Regions from separate parts of the Homo sapiens genome. Here region 1 is linked to region 2. Evidence: fine-mapped expression QTL. A gene starts in region 2. The other region holds a variant in brackets. All regions are shown on one strand. Distances are between the middles of the regions.

The links. PIP is the estimated chance that this variant, and not a neighbour inherited with it, causes the effect.
Region 1: its variant is fine-mapped to the expression of MRS2 in whole blood (TOPMed, PIP 0.94).

Annotation. Positions count from the first base shown.
Region 1 is chr6:24,451,728-24,463,584 of GRCh38, reverse strand. It overlaps GPLD1 (glycosylphosphatidylinositol specific phospholipase D1), which reads left to right. Exons shown (of 25, transcript NM_001503.4): 11 at 790-855; 12 at 3,186-3,306; 13 at 6,948-7,087; 14 at 9,384-9,570. Among named protein-coding and RNA genes, the nearest start is that of GPLD1, 32 kb to the left of the region's middle. RefSeq lists a silencer at 513-713. The variant G/A (reference allele first, on the strand shown) is at 6,455.
Region 2 is chr6:24,396,598-24,408,454 of GRCh38, reverse strand. MRS2 (magnesium transporter MRS2) reads right to left here and starts at 5,519. Exons shown (of 11, transcript NM_020662.4): 1 at 5,219-5,519; 2 at 3,214-3,287; 3 at 11-47. The coding sequence starts at 5,408. RefSeq lists enhancers at 4,148-4,882, 7,091-7,826, 7,827-8,562 and silencers at 6,640-6,934, 7,820-8,114.

The sequences.
Region 1 (11,857 bases), 55 kb before region 2:
CTGTGGTGGACAAGAAAAGGTCCAAAGAGAGAACCTTTTCCTCAGCTCAAACCTGGCCAGAGAAATGTTTTGGTAGGAAGAGTCTGCCTTCAGCTTTTTCCCACCTCCTTTTTGGAATTCCTTTTTCAGCAACTAATTTTCTTCACCCCTACACTCCACATTACTTTTGTATTACCCCAGCCTCCCTCAGTGACCTCCATACAAATCTTAAGATAGTCTTCATTCCAGAATACTCTTCTTATATTAATACCTGCTTCCTCAGTGCTTCTGTTCAGTGTTGGGGGAAAGCCTCTATTGGGAAGAGTTTATCTCTTATGTTCTCAGAGGCTTTTTCACTTGTAAAAGGGGATCCTTCATTAGCTATTTAATTATTGAAATTATGGAATTTTTTTTAAAGAAATGAAATTGAGAAATTCAGACACATTTAGGCATAAATGTGTATAATTGGGCAGAAGGTGACATAATTGGTAACCAGTGTTGATAACACTCTCAAATTCTGAGACGTTTCGTGTTAGCGTGGAACAGCTCAGCAGGTGGAGCGGGGAGGGAAGAGGAAGGCTGAGTCTGGGGTGACTGGCAGCATGAGCCTTCCTGGATTACCATGATAGTGACAACCGTCAGCCTACCCACCCTCTCTGGGAGAACATGGGCTCTTAATTAGTCCTGTATGGCTAGGTAATAAACACTTTAAGCCTTTGGGAGATGATTGAAGCGCACTACCGATTCTCGGTAAAATTCATGCTTGTGAAGAAGTAGATAAATGGCTAACTCATTTGACTGTTTCCTCAGTGACTGCAACCTGCCTGAGAACCCTCTGTTCATTGCATGTGGCGGCCAGCAAAACCACACCCAGGGGTAAGTGGATTCCAAAATTGTTCATAGAAAAAGTACATCTCACCTGGAGGAGATGCCCTATAGAGGTTGAGAACACGGGATCTGTTGAGAGACAGCTGTAGGTTCAAATTCCAGATTTGTCACTTGCAGCTGTGTGATTTTTAAACAAGCTGCTTGATTTTTGGAGCTATAGCTTCCTCCTTTTGCAAAATGGAAAAAGCACATCAACACTCCCAGAATTATGGTGTGGATGACATGCAGTGGTGGATGTAAAGCAATTAGCACATGTTGAGTTGCTCATTAAACGGTAGTTAGTGGCTGGGCACAGTGGCTCATACGTGTAATCCTAGCACTCTGGGAGGCTGAGGCAGGAGGATCCCTTAAGTCCAGGAGTTCAGGACCAGCCTCAGCAACATAGTGAGACCCCTATATCTACAAAAAATGAACAAAATTAGCCAGGTATGGTGGTGTGTGCCTGTAGTCCCAGCTACTTGGGAGGCTGAGGCGGGAGGATTGCTTGAGCCTAGGAGTTCGAGGCTGCAGTGAGCTGAGATCAGGCCAGTACACTCCAGTCTAGGCAACAGAGTGAGATCCTGTCTCAAAAAAAGAAAGAAGAAATGTAGTTAGTATTATTGTAACTATCAATATTATTGTCTTACTCATAAACTTCACCCAGATTTTACATGAAAATTTATTTATTGATGAGACAGTGTTGGGAGAAGCCCTCAATGTTAAGGGCCAGAAGCCTGGTTTGTATTTTAAGAAATGATATTTTCTGCTGGAGTCAGGTACCAACCGACAGTCATTTATGCATTCATTTAATAAGTTATTAATATTACAAATATGTGTATATTTATTAATAAAATAGAACAAAATAACACAAATAATAAAATATCATTTATTAATCAGTACGTGCCAGGAACTGGTTCAGGCACTAGAGATATCATTGTGAACAAGACAGAAACAGTTCCTGCTCTCAGGTATATGGCCTGGCAGGTAGCTGGGCACTAAACAAGTAATTGTGGACATTGTTAAGTGTTAGGAAGAAAAAATGCAAGGTGCTCTGGGGATTTGCAAGCGTCCTGGCCTGGGCACAGGAGGGTTCTCCTTGAAGAAGTGATGGCTTAACAGATATTTAAGTGTCAGGAATTAAAAATGCAGGGTGTTCTGGGGATTTGCAACAGAGCGTCCTGGCCCTGGGCACAAAAGAGCTCTCCTTGAAGAAGTGATGGCTTAACCGGGATATTTAAGGATGATCAAGAGTGAGATATACTCAAAAGTAGAGTATTGCAATGATAAAGGTACTGAGAGGAATGATCTTAGCACTTTGGAAGAATGAAAATTACACAGAAAGTGTTCAGTGAAGTCGTCATTGTTGTATTTGAATTGGGTAACTTTTTTTTTTCTTTTTCTTTTTTTCCTAGCAAACCATTCCTTCAACATACTTTGTTGTTGTTTAATCACATTGAGCACCTTTTGATTAGGCTTGCAATCTTTCTTGGGGTTGCCAGAACCCTGACACTAGTTGGTGTCATGCCCAGGGCCCCGTCACTTACGGCTGTTGTCCACTCCCTACTTCAGTCATTTCTGAAGCCTCTCTGGCTCCCTGAGTCATCTGCTTTTTGGCTGGTTGACATCTTTGAATGTGAAAATGTATTTTTATTGTATAATTAATTTTAGCATGTCTTTGAAGATAAATCAGTATGCTGGCTGGGCGTGATGGCTCACACCTGTAATTCCAGCACTTTGGGAGACCGAGGCAGGTGGATCACCTGAGCTCAGGAGTTCGAGCCCAGCCTGGCCAACATAGTGAAACTCCATCTCTACTAAAAATACAAAAAAATCAGCTGGGTGTGGTGGTGCATGCCTGTAGTTCCAGGCTACTCAGGAGGCTGAGACAGGAGAATTGCTTGAACCCAGGAGGCGAAGGTTGCAATGAGCCGAGATCGTGCCACTGCACTGCAGCCTAGGTGACAGAGCAAGACTCCGTCTCAAAAAAAAAAAAAAAAAATCAGTATGCTTGCAAAGCAGTTTCCCCACCAGCTGATACCTGTTGCTAAATTTTTTCATAATCTGGAAAGAATTGAAGCCTTTTACTCCTACCATAGAGCTCTGATATTATAGGAAATATGTTTTATAAGGATAGGCTTTTAAGCCTTAGAAATGTGTTTACTAAAAGATTTTGTGAAATGAAGGTTTTCTAAAACTTTCTGTGTTGCTCCTTCAGCCTTCTGACGTTAAAATTTTGTGGTCTTTTAACCTGTGATTAACTTGACTATATTCTTCAACTCAGTTTTACAGGGGGTTGTTTTCTCAGTCGTAACCAGTTTATTCCTCTTTCTCTTCAACAGCTCAAAAATGCAGAAAAATGATTTTCACAGAAATTTGACTACATCCCTAACTGAAAGTGTTGACAGGAATATAAACTATACTGAAAGAGGAGTGTTCTTTAGTGTAAATTCCTGGACCCCGGTAAGAATTTTCTGCTCTAAGTTGAGAAAGAGGAATGCTGCTTCTTGAGATACCTTGTTTCGCTGAGTCCCTGGGTATTTATTTGTCCATTGAAATTTACCTGTGGTGGGATGTGGTGGCTGGGAGGCTGAGTTGAGAGGATCCCTTGAGTCCAGGAGTTTGAGACCTGTCTGGGCAACATAGCAAGACCTTGTCTCTATAAAAAATAAATAAATTAGCTGGGTGTGATGGCTGTGCCTGTTGTCACAGCTACTTGGGAGGCTAAGGCAGGAGGATTGCTTGAGCCCAGGAGTTCAAGGCTACAGTGAGCTATGATCATGCCAGTGCACTCCAGCCTGGGTCTAAGCATGTGCCAGGCCGGCAAATACTCTTGGCATCCATATGTGGTTTGTTCTGGAGATGCCCTGAGTCTGCACCTCAGTGGTCTCTGTCAAGTCAAGATGACCCTGGGCACCCAGGCCAATCCTTCTTTGGACTTAGTCCCAAAGGCGTTCACAATGTTGAAGGCTCACTGTGCATAGCCCCATTGTGTATGAAATTAATCAATGAAGTTAGCTGTTAAGTGAAGACACTCTACTGGGGGATATAAAATGAAAGACAAATGAACTCTGACCCTTAAAAAATTTCAGTCTGAAAGGAGTGACAAATACAAAAATAACCATTATGTGAGTAGACTGCAACACATACCATGGTGCGGTAAGTGCATCATTAGATAGTAGGGAGAATGGGCGTGGTGGCTCACGCCTGTAATCCCAGCACTTTAAGTGGCTGAGGCAGGTGGATTGCTTGAGCTCAGGAGTTTGAGACTAGCCTGGGTAACATAATGAGACCCTGTCTCTACAAAAAAGTAACAAAAAATCAGCTGGGCATGGTAGTGTGCACTTGTAGTCCCAGCTATTCGGGAGGCTGAGGTGGGAGGACTACTTGTTCCTGGAAGGCAGAGGTTGCAGTGAGCTGAGGTTGCACCACTGCACTCCAGCCTGGGTGCTAGAGTGACACCCTGTCTCAAAAAACAAAACAAAAAAAAAATAGCAGGGAGAAAAGCTTCACCTTGGAGGCTATCAGACAGAGAAGGCTTCCTGGAGGAGGGGACATTCAAGTTAGGTCTTGGACAGTAGATAGTATTTCATCAGTGAGAGTACATTTCTGTTAGTGGGTTGGGAAAGTTTCAGGTGTTGGGAAATCTGAGTAGTCGTATTTGCCTGGAGCACAGGACAAGGAATATGAGTTACTATGAGAGGCTTAGGAAGCTAAGTAGGCATTGGATTGTAGTGGGCTCTTAATGTCAGAAGGGTTTAGACAACTTTGTGAATGGGGTCTCTGAGAATTGCGGAAGGGCCTAGTTTAGGTTTAATATACTGCTGTCACTGCCTTAAAATTCTTAACAATTTTTTTTTTTTTGAGACAGAGTCTTGCTCTGTCACCTGAGCTAGAGTGCAGTGGTACCACCTCAGCTCACTGTAACCTCTGCCTCCCGGGTTCAAGCAATTCCCTGCCTCAGCCTCCTGAGTAGCTGGGATTACAGGCACCCGCCACCATGCCCAGCTACTTTTTGTATTTTTAGTAGAGATGGGGTTTCACCATGTTGGCCAGGCTGGTCTTGAACTCCTGACCTTAGGTAATCCGCCCACCTGGGCCTCCCAAAGTGCTGGGATTACAGGCGTGAGCCACCACACCCGGCTTTAACAATTTTTTTAACAAAAGGCTGCATGTTTTAATTTTGCCCTGGCCTCCTTAAATTATGTAGCTGGTCCGGACCGGGGAGGGGAACCTCTATCAAAGCACATGTCATTTTGTCTTGCCATATTTGGATTTTCTCCTTTGCAAAAAAATGAATTGTCTAAGGAGGGACTTTATGTTCCCAGTGTCTGCTGTGGTACCTGGCATATAGTAGGAGCTGATTAATTGCTTCCTGGATGAATGAGCAAGTCAGAGCTAGGCTTTAGGATGAAGCAATCTATGCATGGCCTGCCAGTGAGATTAGAATGGGCAAAGCAGAAGGCATACTCGTGCCTGAAAGATCCTCAGACCCTGTGCTTTTGCAGCGCCTGAGCCATCTGGGCTGCCTTCATGCTCTGAGCCAACTGTGCTCTGCTTTGGAGCAGACCTAGGAAATCTTGTTTGGTCTCATGTCACCCTTGGGCAGATTTAGAGTTGTGTCCCCTTAACTTGGATGGATCTAGTATCTGGCCAGCTTGTTCAGGGCCACTCTCGTTTGTGTTTTTTGTCTCTGCAGTAACCACATTAAGAACGATTCAGCATCCCAAGCTGAGGGGCTTGTTGTCCCCCAAATTCTGTGGTGTACGGCTCCTAGCATTCTGCATGTGACCTCTCGTGCCTGCCTGGCAGCAAATACAACCACATCTCAGCTTGGGTGTGGTTTGGAGGATATCGTTTTTTTTTTTTGAGATGGAGTCTTGCTCTGTCACCCAGGCTAGCGTGCAGCGGCACGATCTCAGCTCACTGCAACCTCCATCTCCCAGGTTCAAGCGATTTTCCTGCCTCAGCCTCCCAAGTAGCTGGGACTACAGGTGCCCGCCACCACTCCCAGCTAATTTTTAGTAGAGACGGGGTTTTACTATATTGGCCAGGCTGGTCTCGAACTCCTGACCTTGTGATCCTCCCACCTTGACCTCCCAAAGTGCTAGGATTATAGGCGTGAGCCACCACGCCTGGCCGGTCTGGAGGATATCTTTGGCATCCTGTTGTTCCAGTTTATTTGTTTGTTAATATATATACACATATACAAATACAATTAAAGTTCTGCATTGAAAGGACTTGTTCTTTTTCTTGTTGTTGAGACAGAGTCTCATTCTGTTGCTCAGGCTGGAGTGCAATGGTGAGATCTCAGCTCATTGCAGCCTCAACCTCTTGGATGCAGGTGATCCTCCCATTTCAGCCTCCCAAGTAGCAGGGATTACAGGCACGCTCCACCACACTCGGCTAATTTTTTGTATTTTTTGTTGAGATGGGGTTTCTCCATGTTGCCCAGGCTGGTCTCAAACTCCTGGGTTCAAGTGATCCTCCTGTCTCAGCCTCCTAAAGTGCTAGGATTACAGGTGTGAGCCACTGCACATGGACAGACTTGTCTTTTAAAAAATTTTAGTCCCCTGGGCATGGTGGCTTACGCCTGTAATCCCAGCACTTT[G/A]GGGGAGCCGAGGCAGGTAGATTGCTTAAGGTCAGGAATTCGAGACCAGCCTGGCCAACATGGTGAGACCCCATCTCTACTAAAATACAAAAATTAGCTGGGTGTGGTGGCGAGCACCTGTAATCCCAGCTACTAGGGAGGCTAAGGCAGGAGAATTGCTTGAACCCAGGGGGCGGAGGTTGCAGTGAGTTGAGATCGTGCCACTGCACTCCAGCCTGGTGACAGAGCGATAACTCTTTCTACCCATGCTGGTCCCAACCTCTTGGGCTGTAACTCTGCCATCCCTCAGCATAATTTGGGGGTATGATTTCACTATCCTAATTGCCTGTCCTAAGTGATCTTACTTGCTGATAGGACCTAATGTTTTATTTTATTGTTTAGCACTTCTAAAAACTCATTTCCTTTACACAAGTCCAATACTTTGGACAGGAAACAGTAGCTTTGTTGATTATGCTACGTGTCTTTACTGTCTATAATGATTCTTTTATTTCAGGATTCCATGTCCTTTATCTACAAGGCTTTGGAAAGGAACATAAGGACAATGTTCATAGGTGGCTCTCAGTTGTCACAAAAGCACGTCTCCAGCCCCTTAGCATCTTACTTCTTGTCATTTCCTTATGCGAGGCTTGGCTGGTACGTATAAGTTTATCTAACTTGTGAATGTTTTCTTCAGTATTAATTTTATTCAATCATTCTGCAACTGTTTTTTATTTCATTTTATTTTATTTTATTTTTGAGACAGAGTCTCACTTGTCACCCAGGCTGGAGTACAGTGGCTTGATCTTGGCTCACTGCAACCTCTGCCTCCCAGGTTCAAGTGATTCTCTGCCTCAGCTTCCCAGTAGCTGGGGTTACAGGTGCGCGCCACCATGCCTGGCTAATTTTTATATTTTTAGTAGAGACAAGGTTTCACCATGTTGACCAGGCTGATCTCGAACTTCTGGGCTCAAGTGATCTTCCCGCCTTGGCCTCCCAAAGTCCTGGGATTGCAGGTGTGAGCCACTGTGCCCAGCCCTCTGCAACTGTTTTAAATGGTGCTTGTTAGCACCTTGCTTGTCAATGAATTCATCATCAACAAAAGCATTAATTTATTTGATTAAAAAAATTTTTTTTTCTGTACTAGAGATGGGGTCTTGCTATGTTGCCCAGGCTGGTCTCAAACTCCTGGGCTCAAGCGATCCACCTGCCTCAGCCCCCCAAAGTGCTGGGATTACAAGCATGAGCCACTGCACCTGGCCAAAAGCATTAATTTAATGGTTAAGTTATTGTAACAATGAAATGATCTCCTTACACTTGGTCAAATATGTTTAAATACAAGGAACTTTCGGTTTACTAAATAATCACAACAATAAAGGATTGTTTCATGGAATTTTTGTAAAGCTCTGATGTTCTTGGAGATAAATTCTTACAGATTTCTTTTGTAATCTAGTCACATCAGAAGGATATAAGCAGATAGCTGTTATAGTGATTTAAATATTGTAACTTCATATGGTAAAAGCTGGTATACCATGACAGTTTTATAAAGAGAATGTTAGGAATTCCTCTGATTTTAAAATTCAACCAAAACTAAGCCCCCAAAATAAATAAAAAAATAAAACAAAACAACAACAACATACAAAACTAACCCCAAGTATATAAAAGTGACTATTTTCTGGAAGTTTGGATGAAGGCTTTTTAAAAAAATCATACTCCTTAATTCCAAAGGGCATTGCATTTCCTTGGCACAATTTCCTGACAGTCCTTCCTTTCAGGGCTTCTGTGCATTCAGCTCTAGTGCAGGAGATGGGGAGGTGAATGCTGTCTTTACTGGTCGTTCACTTGTGTGTATGGCTACCTCCCTGAAAGATCCGAAAGGCCTCCTGCTGGGCTGGCAGCTACATAAGCACAGCCAGCCACAGGGGCATCCCTAGGGCCATTACTGGCCAGCATTGAGCCTCCAAAGTGCAGAGAACAGCAATGGGTCCACTGGAGTGTCTGTCCCTCCCACCAGGTATCACAGCCTTAAACAACTGCTCTTGACTTTTTCCTTTGTTCTGCCGTTTGTTCTGATTTCGGCTCACTGGGTTCTCTGCCTCCCGGGTTCAAGTGATTCTCCTGCCTCAGCCTCCAAAGTAGCTGGGATTACAGGCGCCTGCCACCATACCCAGCTAATTTTTGTATTTTTAGTAGAGACAGCATTTCACTGTCTTGGCCAGGCTGGTATCGAACTCCTGATCTCAGGTGATCCACCTGCCTTGGCCTCCCAAAGTGCTGGGATTACAGGCGTGAGCCACCATGCTCGGCCTGCCATTTGTTCTTTATGTGATGATAAGCACTAGAATAAACAAATGACTTTTGGTCTTTCCAGCCCCTGTAGTGACACTTGAACCTTTGACTCGGTTTATCCAGCTCTGTAACTGGTGGCTCTTGGAATCTCATCTAGGAGCCTCTACTAAACATGTGGGACTCTTGATTTGGCCCACTGCCAGGTGCCTTTGTGGCTGTGGTAAAAACATAGTCTATTTCACACAAGCTCGTCTTTGATCAGATAACACATTGAAACGAATTGAGCAGATCAGAAAGTGGCCTGCGCCATTGGCTAGAGGGGCTTGGCTGGACATGAATTTCCTCTCTACTCTCAGGCAAGCCCTGGTTTTGTGTATAAGACAAGAAGCTTCATGAGTATACTTTTCATCCTCTCAGGTTATGTAGTCCAGAAATGCTTAGAGGCCTTGATTTGTCCATTTTTATTTTATTTTTCCCCTTGAAGAATGAGACTGAATCACACTAACAATACAACCTGAGAAGTGAATATTCACAACAGTCACGCAGGGTGGAAAAGTCAGTGAGAGAAAGTTAATGGACTGGGCTCTAGAAAGGAAAGAAGCAGGCGACAGCTTTAACCCTAGTGCTCAGTGCATACCATGGTGGGTCCCTTCACTTCCCTAAGGGCAATGACCTCAGCTGACCTCAACCAGGATGGGCACGGTGACCTCGTGGTGGGCGCACCAGGCTACAGCCGCCCCGGCCACATCCACATCGGGCGCGTGTACCTCATCTACGGCAATGACCTGGGCCTGCCACCTGTTGACCTGGACCTGGACAAGGAGGCCCACAGGATCCTTGAAGGCTTCCAGGTGAGACACCATCTCATCCTTTCTCTTCTAGTGGTTAGTAGCTACTCTTGCATTTTGTGGCAGATTCTCCAGGATGAGTAACTAATAACAAGAATAATTACAGTAACAAACAGCTGGTGGTGTACATTTGTGAAGCACTTTTTAGTTTTAGAAGCATGTTTACATCATTTATTTTATTCTATCATTAGTCTAATACCTTCCAAAAACACACATGCTATTGAGAACTGCTTTGAGTGGCCAGTTGGGATGTGATTTCTTGATAATATAATTGATAATATAAAACCTCTTTATACACACACACACACACACACACACGAAATGTATGTATTTATAAAACTTTGTAAGTATTTTATTTTAATTAATTAATTTATTTATTTGAGATGGAGTCTCTTGCTCTGTCACCCAGGCTGGAGTGCAGTGGTGCAATCTCTGCTCACTGCAACCTCTGCCTCCCGGGTTCAAGCAATTCTCCTGCCTCAGCCTCCTGAGTAGCTGGTACTACAGGTGCACACCACCAGGCCCGGCTAATTTTTTTATTTTTAGTAGAGATGCAGTTTTGCCATGTTGGCCAGTCTGGTCTCAAACTCCTGACCTTAGGTGATCCACCCACCTTGGCCTCCCAAAGTGCTGGGATTACAGGCGTGAGCCACTGCATCCGTCCAGAATTTTAGATTCACAGAAAAGGTATAAAGACAGTACAAAGAGTTCCCATGTACTGTTTACTCATTTTCCCCTATGTTAACATCTTACATAATTATGGTATACTTGTCAAAAATTAAGAATAAAAACAACACTGTACATCACTATTAACTAAACGCCAGGCTTTCTTTAGATTTCCTTCTTTTGTCCTAAGTGGTTATTCATCACCTGAAAAAACCCGCAGTGACTACAAACGTTCCTCGTGGAGTCCAAGCATTAATTCCTCCCGAGAGCGCTAGGGTCCTGGAAAGTTTTTCTAACATCAGAGGCTTTAGTTTTTGTAACAGCAATAAGGAGGAGCGTGGGGGGGTGGGGTAGACAGAGCTCTGCTACTAGTCACCAATGAGTGTGGGGCTTTTGGTGATACTGGCCTGGCACTGCATTCTCTGAGTGTCAAGTGCTAGGGGGAGAACCCTAGACTTCCAGTCAGATCGTCGTGGTTCTTGTTCCAGGCAAGGCACTTACCCTTTCGCTGTGAAGTGAATCCTGTGAAGAGAAAATAAGATGGCACACCTGAACGTGCTTGCTTTTTTTTTTTTTTTGAGATAAACTCTCACTGTTGCCCAGACTGGAGTGCAGTGGCATGATCTTGGCTCACTGCAACCTCTGCCTTCTGGGTTTAAGTTATTCTCCCATCTCAAGGTCACAAGTAGCTAGGACTACAGGCATGCACCGCCATGCCCGGCTAATTTTTGTATTTTTAGTAGAGACGGGGTTTCACCATATTGGTAAGGCTGGTCTTGAACTCTTGACCTCAGGTGGTCCGTCCGCCTCAGCCTCCCAAAGTGCCGGGATTGTAGGTGTGAGCCACCACGCCCAGCCATGAACACGCTTTCAAAAATAAGAAGTACAATGATTTATGATCTAGTTTAGGCTCTGATGAAAGGAGCTCTGAATCCAACATGTACAAATAAGGTGACTGGTCAGTGTGTAAGGTCACAGTCCCAGAGGGACAGCATTTTTCAGGGCCTTCTGACACCACATGAAAAATTTCCAAAATAAATTTATCTAATCTTGTTGCTTCTTACTTCTCTACAAAGCCTTTCCCCGACAGACTGTTGTGTAAAGTGTAAACCTTTGGGCACATATAGACAGGGAATAAAGAGAGGCACCTGCTTCCTGTGGCTGCTAAACTCTCTCAAAGACCACTTGGGTGAGAAAGGAAGTGGCTCCATGCCCTCCTCCCCTAGTGACCTTTGATCATTTCAAAGATGGCAAGATAAAGGCATGGACGAAGGATGGAAATCCTGCCCTCAGGCCCTGACTGCAGTGAGCATCTCTGTGTCCTCATTGATACAATGAAGGTTTATGATAGGAAACTCAAGGCCTGGCCTGCTTTAAAGTTCTGTGCTCCTCTCGGAATGACTGGCTGGCCCGTAGGAGGGCCGGATGGTGCAGCTGATAGTGATAAAATGAACCAGTCCTCAGCTGGCAGAGCCCTGAGTTATTGGTTCCCACCCTGCCCTAGCGTGTTTTGTGTCCCCAGGCAACCTTATCTTGTTTATCAAGTTTCTGCCTTACAGAAAGGGGCAGCACTTATAGATGCCACTGCACACGGGTGTGGAGAGATTACCTAATAAATAATGGA
Region 2 (11,857 bases):
AATCACTCACCAAAAGAAGTAACGTTTCCCTGTTTGTCAAATTTTGTCTGAAAATAGAGAATAAAACAAATTATGATTTTCTTTCAAATTAGAATGCTACTTATGGTATTGCTAATTTAGTTAAGAATTTATGGTATTGTAAGTAATATCCCCAAAATGTTGAAATGCAAATATAAACCATTACTGACCTTCTTTAGATTAAATCCAGTTATGAGTTAAGGGTTTTTTTAAAATCCTTTTTTCCTTTGATAGGAAAAATCAGACCTGGGTTTAACTTTCTATCTTGGTTCCTCTAGAAAGTTGATAAAGGAGTATCAGTTGTGTTGTTACTAGGTAACAATCCTTATGGTAAAAATGACCATTGACTGGTAGACTGCACTGGACTGGGAAGACGAACAAATTACAGTTATCAGGTGAAAAGCAATAGCTCTCTTTGCCCTTTCCTGATTGTGGTGGCTCTTGTGGCCATGTTCCCAGCCAGAATCCTGGACACTGTGCCCCTGCGATGGTTACAAGGGATACTGTCACTACGGGGCATGGGGATTCGAGCCAAGATGAATCTCACATCCACCTTTGAGAATCTTATCTCCTTGTCACTGAGCGATCACTCAGAGGACCAGAGAAGCCCCTGGATGGCTGCAAAGACTTCTTTTGAAGAGGAAACACCTAACACTACCCTGTTGTTTCTCCTGTCCCTTATCCTTCTGAGTAGACTGGGACCAAGTATGGCCCGCCTTGTGAATCTAAATGTCTACATGAGGCCAAAGTCTCTTTGGTGGGTGTTGCAGAATCAATAAAGATTTACAGAACCCCTTCTGATAGTTTGAAGAGAGGATTTGATACAGAAAATGCACCTATTTCCTGCAAAGTAGGGGACTATCTTTCAGTGATGTTTATCCACAGTCAAGTTTGAAGCTGTGAAACATTTAATGAATCACTATGTGCTGAGCTGTACTACTTACTACGACAGACACATTTCAGAAAGACACTCCAACATACAGGTTTAAGTACAATATAGGTCTTGGGTTACTACCATGGAAATATACATGCTGTGTTAATCACACAATAAAAACTCACAATATATATATTTTATCTTGCTTCTCATCAGCAAAAATAAAATTAATATGAATATATAAGTTCCATAGAACATTAAAGGAAAATTTATATCAAAGAAAGCTTTATATTTGTGTAATAGTCTAGCTTTCAGCCTTATATTTCACAAATACATAAACCCACTGCAGAAAATTTGAAAATAAATATACGTAACATAAAACTATATTAATCACCTGAAATGACAAATTTTAGAGAAAACCATGTCAATATTTCACTGAATATCCTTCCAAACATTTTCCTAATAAAACATACTTATACATACTGCTTTGCAGTCTCCCTCCTTCCAAATTAGCAACATATGCTGAATATTTTTGCATCTCAATATTTATATGTACCCTTTTTTTCTTTAATGGAACTTAAAAAAATTTTTTAAATCATACAAATTATAAAGAAAAAAATATTTACTTTGTAACCAGCTCACTTTCTAAACTATTTCAAACAGCACAAATTAAATTTTTCTTTCTCAGATTCCATAGCTTTATGAATTTCTTAAGTGTTCTTTGCAATTATTTCACCTGCAAAGAACTAACTTTCAGTATTTCACGTTTGACTTTGTATTCTTTTTTTGAGACAGAGTCTTGCTCTGTTGCCCAGGCTGGAGTGCAGTGGTGCAATCTTGGCTCACTGCAACCTCCACCTCCCAGGTTCAAGCGATTCTCCTGCCTCAGCCTCCTGAGTAGCTGGGACTACAGGCGTGCACCACCACGCCTGGCTAATTTTTTTGTTTTTTAGTAGAGACGGGGTTTCACCATGTTGGTCAGGCTGGTCTAAAACTCCTGACCTCAAATGATATGCCCACCTCAGCCTCCCAAAGTGTTGGGATTACAGGCGTGAGCCACCGTGCCTGGCCCTGATTTTGTATTCTTAACTAAATTGGCCAACTCTTCCAGAACAATGAATAACAGTGGTAACTTTTAAACGCAATTCTGGGGGTTATTTAATTTTATATAGTTTATAAAGAAAAGCTCTTATGTTAACAAGCCTAAATAATCCTAATGAAATATATTTGAGGCTTACTATATGTGAGGCACTAGTTTAAGGGCTTTCTATATATGAGTTAATTTAATCCTCATAACAATTCTATATGGTAGGTTATGCTCAGTTTTCAGATGAGAAAACTAAGGCACAAAGATGTTATTGTAACTTGTCCAAGGCCACCTAGTCAATAAGAGGCAGAGTGAGATTGGAATTTAGGAAGTCTGGCTCAGAATAGGCACACCTTTTTTTTTTTTTTTTTGAGATGGAGTCTCACTCTGTCTGCCAGGCTGGAGTGCAGTGGCATGATCCAGGCTCACTGCAAGCTCCGCCTCCTGGGTTCATGCCATTCTCCTGCCTCAGCCTCCCAAGTAGCTGGGACTACAGGCGCCCACCACCAGGCCTGGCTAATTTTTTGTATTTTTAGTAGAGATGGGGTTTCACTGTGTTAGCCAGGATGGTCTCAATCTCCTGACCTCATGATCTGCCCACCTCGGCCTCCCAAAGTGTTGGAATTACAGGCGTGAGCCACCACGCCCGGCCGGCACACCTTTTTATCAAGACTTTTTTTTTTTTTGGAAAAAAAAAAAAAGCCTACAAAGAAGTTGCAAGAATATTACAACCAATTCCCATAGAGCTTTCACCTAGAGTCACCTTTGTTAACATTTTGCCCCAACAGCCTTCTTTCTCTAAAAATACGTGTGATACATTATCTTATTCATTCATTTCCCCCCTCATCCCCACCCCCGAACCATTTCAGAGAAAAGTTAGAGATCATGACCTTTCAAAGCATGCATTTTTAAATACTACTCTCTGCTGCCTTCAAAATGCTTCTGCCTGCGTATTATCTTGCAGAACATAGGTTCAAGCCTCTTTATGGCTCTGAATTGTGATTGACCTGTTCTAGTATTAAAAGGGGAGCTGCAGTCATTAGCAAAGGTTCAAGATCATTGTTAAGCAAATCTAGCAGGCACTTAGGTCACTGGCCAGGCACAACAGCCACGACATGTAGCTATGATGATTATAAAGCTCAAAATAAGTAGTATCTTGGCCAACAGTCCAACGAGTTAACTTATGTATGGGAAGCACTTTCTGTACGATTTCCAATGTACTGTACATACTCACCACAGTAAATACTGGGGCTACACTGGCTAAAGTGGCTTGAGAGACGTCAGAGGTTCTAAACCGGTGCACTTCACCTGAAGAATAAATTAAGAGAATTCCTGTGGTCACATGATTGGTTTTCACATAGAGCTAAAATACAACTCTCAAAGTATGTGGAGGCCTTCAGACTATTTTATTATTTTTAAATATTTTTCCTATAAGAAAAGAAGAAATACTCTTCTTAATTTTAACATCTGTTAGTGACTATCTTAGGTTTGGCAGGGAATGATTTTTAAAACTAATGGCTTAGGTGAGGCATTAAAATAACTGATGGATTCCAATCACCCTTTTACCTTTCTAATTATTACTGATATCTCAGAGTTGGATGAACAAATGTGCAACATCGTGTTCTGAGATTTAAGAAAATGTCTGGTCTTCCTTTTCGCATAATTTAAAAGACTCTTCATGCACATTTGGTAGTAGATACATTTTAGAAAACATAGGTCCTAAGTACCACCTGATCTTTCAAGCATTCCAGTTGACTGGCTCATAAATTATGAAACCTATGATTTTACTTCTTTTCTACAGATATCCTTTATAGTGAATACTTATGAAATACCCCCACTGAGCTGAAATGACAAATCTTTATTTTAAAATTGTCTATTTAAAACGTGATTAGACTGAGTCGAAGTGAGCGGTGAAGTATAATCAAGTACATTTAATGACTGACAGAGGACACTGTTTTGTGCTTCCAAAGTAATTACACTGATTCCAGAGACTGTAGAAAAAAAAACCTATTTCTGATCTTTTTTCTACTACATACACGTAATGATTGTTGTAATTTGTTAGTATCTGAAGTTTCATTTCCCTTTTACAAAATACAAATTATCACTATAAGGGTAAGATGAATAAAGGTAAAAGGCATTTGCTGATTACAAATGCCTTTCAATGTTTTAATGTCACAAATTAGAGTGTAACCGGGATTGAGATTGTGAACGTCAATGCTTGTCCTAAAAGTTTCCTCCAACTTGCTGAAACTGGATTCCCAAGCATTATCAATTGAGGGTGCAGAGCATGTAACCCAACTTAGCCTCTCCAATAAGTGGAGAATGAGGTGCTGACGAGGAGTTACTTTGGGAGGCTTTTGAGAGCACAATTGAGAAAACATATTTGAGGACACTGCTATGTTCTTAATAAAGTCATTCATTTCAATACCTTTTATTCCTCAAATATTTGCACTCACATTTGTGAAAATCTTAACTTTTCACCATGCTTCAACATTTGGTGAAAAAATAAACAGCAAATAAGATTTTTTTTTCTCAATCCGATCTCCCTGGCTGTTTACTTATAGAGTACTGTAGTTGAAAGTAAGTCGTTCTCAGAAACAACTCAGTCTTTAGCCTCACTTCTAGGTGCGTCCCCAATCTCCGTGCAACTGGACAACTGTATAAATGTGTCCATAACGAAGAAACAGAAAACAGGGAAGTATTAATTTATACTTATGACTTCCGAACAGATGAAATCCTTGTTTAAAAACACCTCTCGGCCAGGTGTGGTGGCTCACGCCTGTAATCCCAGCGCTTTGCGAGGCTAATGCGTTAGGATGGCTCGAGGCAAGGAGTTTGAGTCCAGCCTGGGCAACATAGTAAGACCCTGTCTCAAAAACAACACAGAAAAAACCTCTTACAAGAGCACTTAAGCGGGTGTTAACTAACGTGATCACGGTCTGTAAACGATTCCTAGGTTGTTCCTATGGTTACATAATCTGCAGCAAGGGCGGTGGAGGAGAAGGCAGAGGGTTGGCCGCTGGGACCCCGGCAGGGCACAGCGCACATAGCAAGGTCGCATTCTGAGCGAGTGGGACGCAGCTCGGCCCGCGGGCCTGTGCAAGCTCACAGGACACGCGGGAGGCCGAGGCCTGCGGAGGGCGCGGAGCAACAGGCGCGCCGCGCCGGACGGCTGGGGCAGCAGTCTAAGGTCACTGCAAGACCAGCGTCCCAAGGCTGTTGCCGGGGAAGGGCAGTACCTGCCACGCGGAGCCGGTCGGGCCCGCAAAGCTGCGCCGCTCGGCTCCTTCCAATCAGGTTGGCTCGGCGGCCGCAGGCAGCAACGGGAGGACCCACAGAGGTCACGTCCAAGGCCAGGGCACACAGCGTCCGCCGGGGAAGTCTCATCGCGCGGGGCAGGAGGCAGGGTAAACTGCGCAGGCATTCCATGGTGCTGGAGCAAGAAGCAGGCAGCAGCCAGACCCCAGACCTTCATGCCGGACGCTGGCTGCTCAGGCCGCAGCTCTGACCTGTCGCTACCGCCCGACCTGCAGACTCTGTGCACCAGGCATGCGCGGGGCGTGCCGCGCCTGCGTGCTACTTCCCCACGCATGCTCGGAAGGTACCTGTGGGCGAGCCTGTTAAGTCCACAGCCAATAGACGTTTGCTTGCCTACCTGTACCTGCACCTGTACCTAAGTGAGGGGGCAGGCGGGCTGGGAGATGGGTGGAGCACGTTTACCTGCACTAAGTGAGCTGTCCAACCTAGGTTCTTGGGCGCTTGGAGTGTCATGGTTTTGTAGTTTGTGGAGAATTTTCATACCTATGAAAATTGCAGTTTGGAAATGAGCAGGTTACCCATTCCCACATCATTTAATTTATATTTAAATTTAACGTGGTGTAGGGAGCAAGAGGGAAAGCTCCTACTTTTGCCCTCTGAAAGTTGCTGGAATGAACTAAGTAGACAGATTAGCAGGAGAAAAAGGCATACAAAATTTGCTTAACGTGCATAGGGAAAAATCACAGAAGAGTGATTACTCAATAACTCAATTAAGGTCCAGATGCTTGTATACCCTTCTTTGTTGAGTAGAGGGAGATAGGTATGAATGGGCCCGAAAGCCAGACAGTGGTTTGCAAATGATTCTCCTTGGACATTCAGTGGGACAGAAGTACAAACAATCGCTTGTGGACAAGCTGTGAAACTTCACTCTGAACAAAAATTGTCCTATTATACAGGTAAAGTTTCCCAGGTAATCTCTTGGAGCTACCCTCAGAAGTATCTATGAAAAGTCTCAGTGTGGCTATGACTTTCAGTTTTTGTCTCTTCTCTGGGTGATTAATCTCTTCTGATTATTTAATGCGATTCCTAAGGAACGGGTTTTAAGACAATTGCATTTCTTTGGAAAAGAGTTTTCTCTGTCAGATAAGGAAATTCCTTATCTGGCTGTGCAGGAAAAGAGAGCCCCTTCAGGTGCTTGGAAAAAGTAAGAGTATCAGAGAGACAAAAGGAAGGGGGAAGGTGAGAGAGAGAGGCCTTGATTTTTAGGCTTCTTTCTGAGACCCTTTTAATTTCCTTTAATTCAAAGACTCAACATGCCACCGGGCGTGGTGCCTCATGCCTGTAATCCAGCACTTTGGGAGCCAAGCACTTTGGGAGGCCAATGTTGTGGACCACTTGAGGTTAGGAGTTCAGGACCAGCCTGGCCAACATGGCAAAACCCGTCTCTACTAAAAATACAAAAATTAGCCGGGTGTGGTTGCAGGTGCCTGTAATCCCAGCTACTTGTAAGGCTGAGGCATAAGAATTGCTGGAATCCAGGAGGTGGAGGTTGCAGCGAGCCCAGATCATGCCATTGCATTCCAGCCTGTACTGCATTCCAGCCTGTACGACAGAGTGAGACTCCCATCTCAAAACAAACAAACCCCAAAGACTCAGCATGCCAAAACATCATATTTTGGGGTATTATGGTTTGAGCCCCAGTAGTGGCAAAAATAATCAACTGTCATATGGAATGATGTCATGTATTAAACTTTTGCTATAAAGAATGAGGAGCACAGACACATAAGATTTCTATTCCATATTTAATAAAATGTAAGATAGCATCAATTTTAAGGTACCATTATTTTATGTACCACCAAGAAAGAAAAAAAAACTGATAAGTTATGCTTTCTAAACATGTAGATTGAAAGACATATCTCAATTCCAGTCTTTAAAATATGAAAAAAGTCTTAGGTTAAATACAGTATGTATGCATATTTTAAAAATATGAGTTAATAAATTTATTGTCCCTTCCACAGTAGTAATACAAGGCAGACACAAGTTCCACAGACTTCCTTTCAATATCTATGTATGGACACAAAGCTAAGGAGACAGAGATAGAAACATTTTATTCTGCAGGGTACTGGGACTGGGGATGGAGTAGGAGGGCAGTGCACAAAGAGAAGCCTTCACAGAAGAGAGGATGTTTGACTTGATAATGTGGGGAAAAGAAAGAGAGATCAGATTGTTACTGTGTCTGTGTAGAAAGAAGTAGACATAAGAGACTCCATTTTGTTCTGTACTAAGAACAATTCTTCTGCCTTGAGATGCTGTTAATCTGTAACCCTACCCCCAACCCTGTGCTCCCTGAAACATGTGCTATGTCACCTCAGAGTTAAATGATTAAGGGCTGTGCAGGATGTGCTTTGTTAAACAAATGCTCGAAGGCAGCATGCTTGTTAAGAGTCATCACCACTCCCTAATCTCAAGTACCCAGAGACACAAAACACTGCAGAAGGTCGCAGGGACCTCTGCCTGGGAAAGCCAGGTATTGTCCAAGGTTTCTCCCCATGTGATAGTCTGAAATATGGCCTCGTGGGAGGGGAAAGACCTGACCGTCCCCCAGCCCGACACCCGTAAAGGGTCTGTGCTGAGGAGGATTAGTGAAAGAGGAAGGAACGCCTCTTTGCATTTGAGATAAGAGTAAGGCATCTGTCTCCTGCTTGTCCCTGGGCAATGGAATGTCTCAGTGTAAAGCCCGATTGTATATTCCATCTACTGAGATAGGGGAAAACCGCCGTAGGGCTGGAGGTGGGACATGCTGGCAGCAATACTGCTCTTTAAGGCATTGAGATGTTTATGTATATGCACATCAAAAGCACAGCACTTTTTTCTTTACCTTGTTTATGATGCAGAGACATTTGTTCACGTGTTTACCTGCTGACCTTCTCTCCACTATCATCCTATTGTCCTGCCACATCCCCCTCTCCAGGAAACACCTGATAATGATCAATAAATACTAGGGGAACTCAGAGGCCGGTGCCGGCGCGGGTCCTCTGTATGCTGAGCGCCAGTCCCCCGGGCCCATTTTTCTTTCTCTATACTTTGTCTGTGTGTCTCTTTCTTTTCCAAGTCTCTCATTCTACCTGATGAGAAATGCCCACAGGTGTGGAGGGGCAGCCCAACCCTTCAGATAATTGAAGGCAAAGAAAAACTTTAATCATTGCTTCCAGGGCGTTGAAGTCTGGAAAATCGCTGAGTATAGAGAACATGGCTGGTAGATTTTTCATTTTACTAAAGCTTTAATGATGAGATAAGTATTTCAAACATATTACATGCCTTCAGAGATGCTTCTTTGAGAAAATATGTGATAACTTTCTCTTTAAAACAAAATTTGCACCCAGCACAATGAGACAGCTCTAAGATAACTTTTGCAAAGTCTAAGGAAAACTCTGGAACCTGTCCAGACGTACAGCCTCGTAATTCGTGGCAAAGATTTTTCTGAGAAGGGTGGGAACCATTGGAGGACTTCGAGCAGAGAGGTAATGAGCAGAGGTAACAATCTGATTTATGTTTAAATGGGTCACTCTTGCTGTGTGGGAAAGAGACTACAGAGAGGCAATTGGAAGCAGAGAGATGGTGATGATGGTTTGGGCTAAGGTGGGGATGGTGGAGAGGGGAAGATGAGTTGGGCTTGGTACCATATATTGAAGGCTGAGTTGACAACATTTGCAGATGGGATATAAGAGAAAGAGAGGCATAGATGTTGCTCCAAAATGTGTATCCCGAACAGCAGGGCCTTGCTGGTGCTATTTACTGAGATAGGGAATTTTGGAAAGGAGCAGTTTTTTTTTTGTTTGTTTTGTTTTTTGTGACGAAGTCTCGCTCTGTCGCCCAGACTGGAGTGCAGTGGTGTGATCTCTGCTCACTGCAAGCTCCGCCTCCCGGGTTCACGCCATTCTCCTGCCTCAGCCTCCCAAGTAGCTGGGACTACAGGCGCCTGACACCACGCCCAGCTAATTTTTTGTATTTTTAGCAGAGATGGGGTTTCACCGTGTTAGCCAGGATGGTCTCGATCTCCTGACCTTGTGATCCACCCGCATTGGCCTCCCAAAGTGCTGGGATTACAGGCGTGAGCCACCATGCCTGGCCAGAAAGGAGAAGTTTTTAATTGAAAACTGTGGCTCAAACCTGTAATCCCAGCACTTTGGGAAGCCAAGGTGTGCGGATCACCTGAGGTTGGGAGATCGAGACCAGCCTGACCAACGTGGAGAAACCCCATCTCTACTAAAAATACGAAATTAGCTGGCTGTGGCGGTGCATGTCTGTAATCCCAGCTACTGAGGGGGCCGAGGCAGGAGAATCACTTGAACCCGGAGGTGGAGGGTGCGGTGAGCCAAGATCGCACTATTGCACTCCAGCCTGGGCAACAAGAGTGAAACTCCCGTCTCAACAACAACAACAAGAACAACAACAAAAACAAGAACAACAAAAACTATGGCATGGCATTTGGTTTTGAATGTTAACTTCGAGAGATGTCCTAGACAGATATCTGAGTGTAGATGTCAAGTAAGCAGCCTGGAATTCAGGGAAGGTGTTGGAGATAGATAGTTACATTTGAGACTGTATAGAATATTTAAAGCCACAAGATTGGAAGAGATCTCCCAAGAAGGCCGAGCACAGTGGTTCACCCCTGTAATCCTAGCACTTTGGGAGTCCGAGGCTGGTGGATCACCTGAGGTCTGGAGTTTGAAACCAGCCTGGCTAACGTGGCGAAACCCCGTCTCTACTAAAAATATAAAAATTATTGGGGTATGGTGGCAGGCGCCTATAATCCTGGCTACTCGGGAGGCTGAGGCAGGAGAATCGCTTGAACCCGGGGGGCAGAGGTTGCAGTGGGCCAAGATTGCCCCACTTCACTCCAGCCTGGGGGAAAGCAAAACTCCATCTCAAAAAAAAAAAAAAGTCTCCCAAGAAGTGAGTCAGAGAAAAAGTCATCATACAATTGAGCTCTAGATCCTCTCATATTGAATTGTTAAGAAGATGAGATAGATCCAGCAGAAGAGTATGAGGAGTGACAAAGAAAGAAATAGAATCAGAGGGTGGAATCCTAGAAGCCAAGTAAAGAAAGTTATTTAGTTGGGGTTCAGAAACTGCTACCCCAAAATATGTTTTGACATGTTAAACTGAAGAAGCCTCAAGGTCTCGCTGGCACCACCCCCTGCCAACTGAGTCTTCCAAAGATGAAGTTAACGTTTTTTTTTAACCTAAGATCCAGACCCATTAAAAGAAACAACTGTCTCTTCTCCTCCCTGAAAAACCAAGAATGTAACCATGCTTGAACACACCCTTTGACAGGGTAATGTTCATGTTCATCTCTGTTCCCTGATCCATTCATTCTCCCTAGTAATCCCCTCAATAGAATTCCTCTTCTACTCCCTCCCATAGCCTATTTTGCCAGGGTGGTATATAAGCTTCTTAACCCTGTTGGAGGTTGTGTAATCACCCTGTGATTCTCCCTGTGTACACATTTATACAATTTGCCTTGTCTCCAATCAATCTGCCTTTTGTGGGTTGATTTTTTTAGCAAACTTTCAGTGGCTGAAGGGGAAGTTTCTCTTGGTCCCTACTGTTGCATGAATGAAGAAGTGATAAGTTATGTCAAAATTTTCTGATGGGTAAAATAAGAAATGAGAATTGTCTATATTGGACATGACACTATGGAACTTATTGGTGATCTTCATAGGAGCAGCTTTAATAGAGTAACAGGAAAAGGGACCTGTGAAACCACTTTGCAAAGATTATCACAGTAAGAGATATCTGATGTAGTTGACTCCATCTTGCTTCTGACCTCCAAGCTGTCCTTGGTTGTTCTTAGGTATAGGCCAAACTAACCATGGAGGAATTTGGTTTATAGCTTAACTTTGAAGCAAGGATAATAGTCCTACCCTAAAACTACCCCCTTCCTGCTTGTTTCGGGGCTGAAACCACCTTCATGAGACTAGTGAAAGGCCCAAGATTAGGATTATGGAAGGAGTCTGAGTTCTGCTAAAATGTGGGCATATGTTCTATAATCCCTTACTGTTCAGGAGTCGTGTGGCCAGAGATCACAAGATTTGTGCTTTCTCAATTGCTCCTATAGATAACATCATCACTGTAGAACCTAAGATTGGCCCTTTGAGATGTTTTTCAGACTGACCCCACTCAAATTCATGACTTATGACTCAGCCTGTCCTGTGGTTCCACCTAGAGGAGAACTCAGTGCATGAGGACCATTTTCCAGCCCCTGTGATTTCATCCCCAACCAATCAGCAGCACCTGTTCCTTAGCCCCCTGCCCACCAAATTGTCCATAAAAACCCTAGACTCTGAGCCTTCAGGGAGACTGGGTCAAGTAATAACCTCATCTCTGGTGTGGCTGACCTTGCATCAATTAAACTCTTGTTTTACTGCAATGCCTCAGTCTCAGTGAATTGATTATGGCTGTGCAGCAGGCAGGAAGAACCCATCAGGGTATCACACCTGGATCACTGTCTTCCCTTTTATCCCAAGCCATAGCAGAATCCCAGAAGACGCCTGCATCTATATAATAACAATCTAGCCTCAACATTTCTTAATCTCTTTCCTTACCTTCTTGGCTTC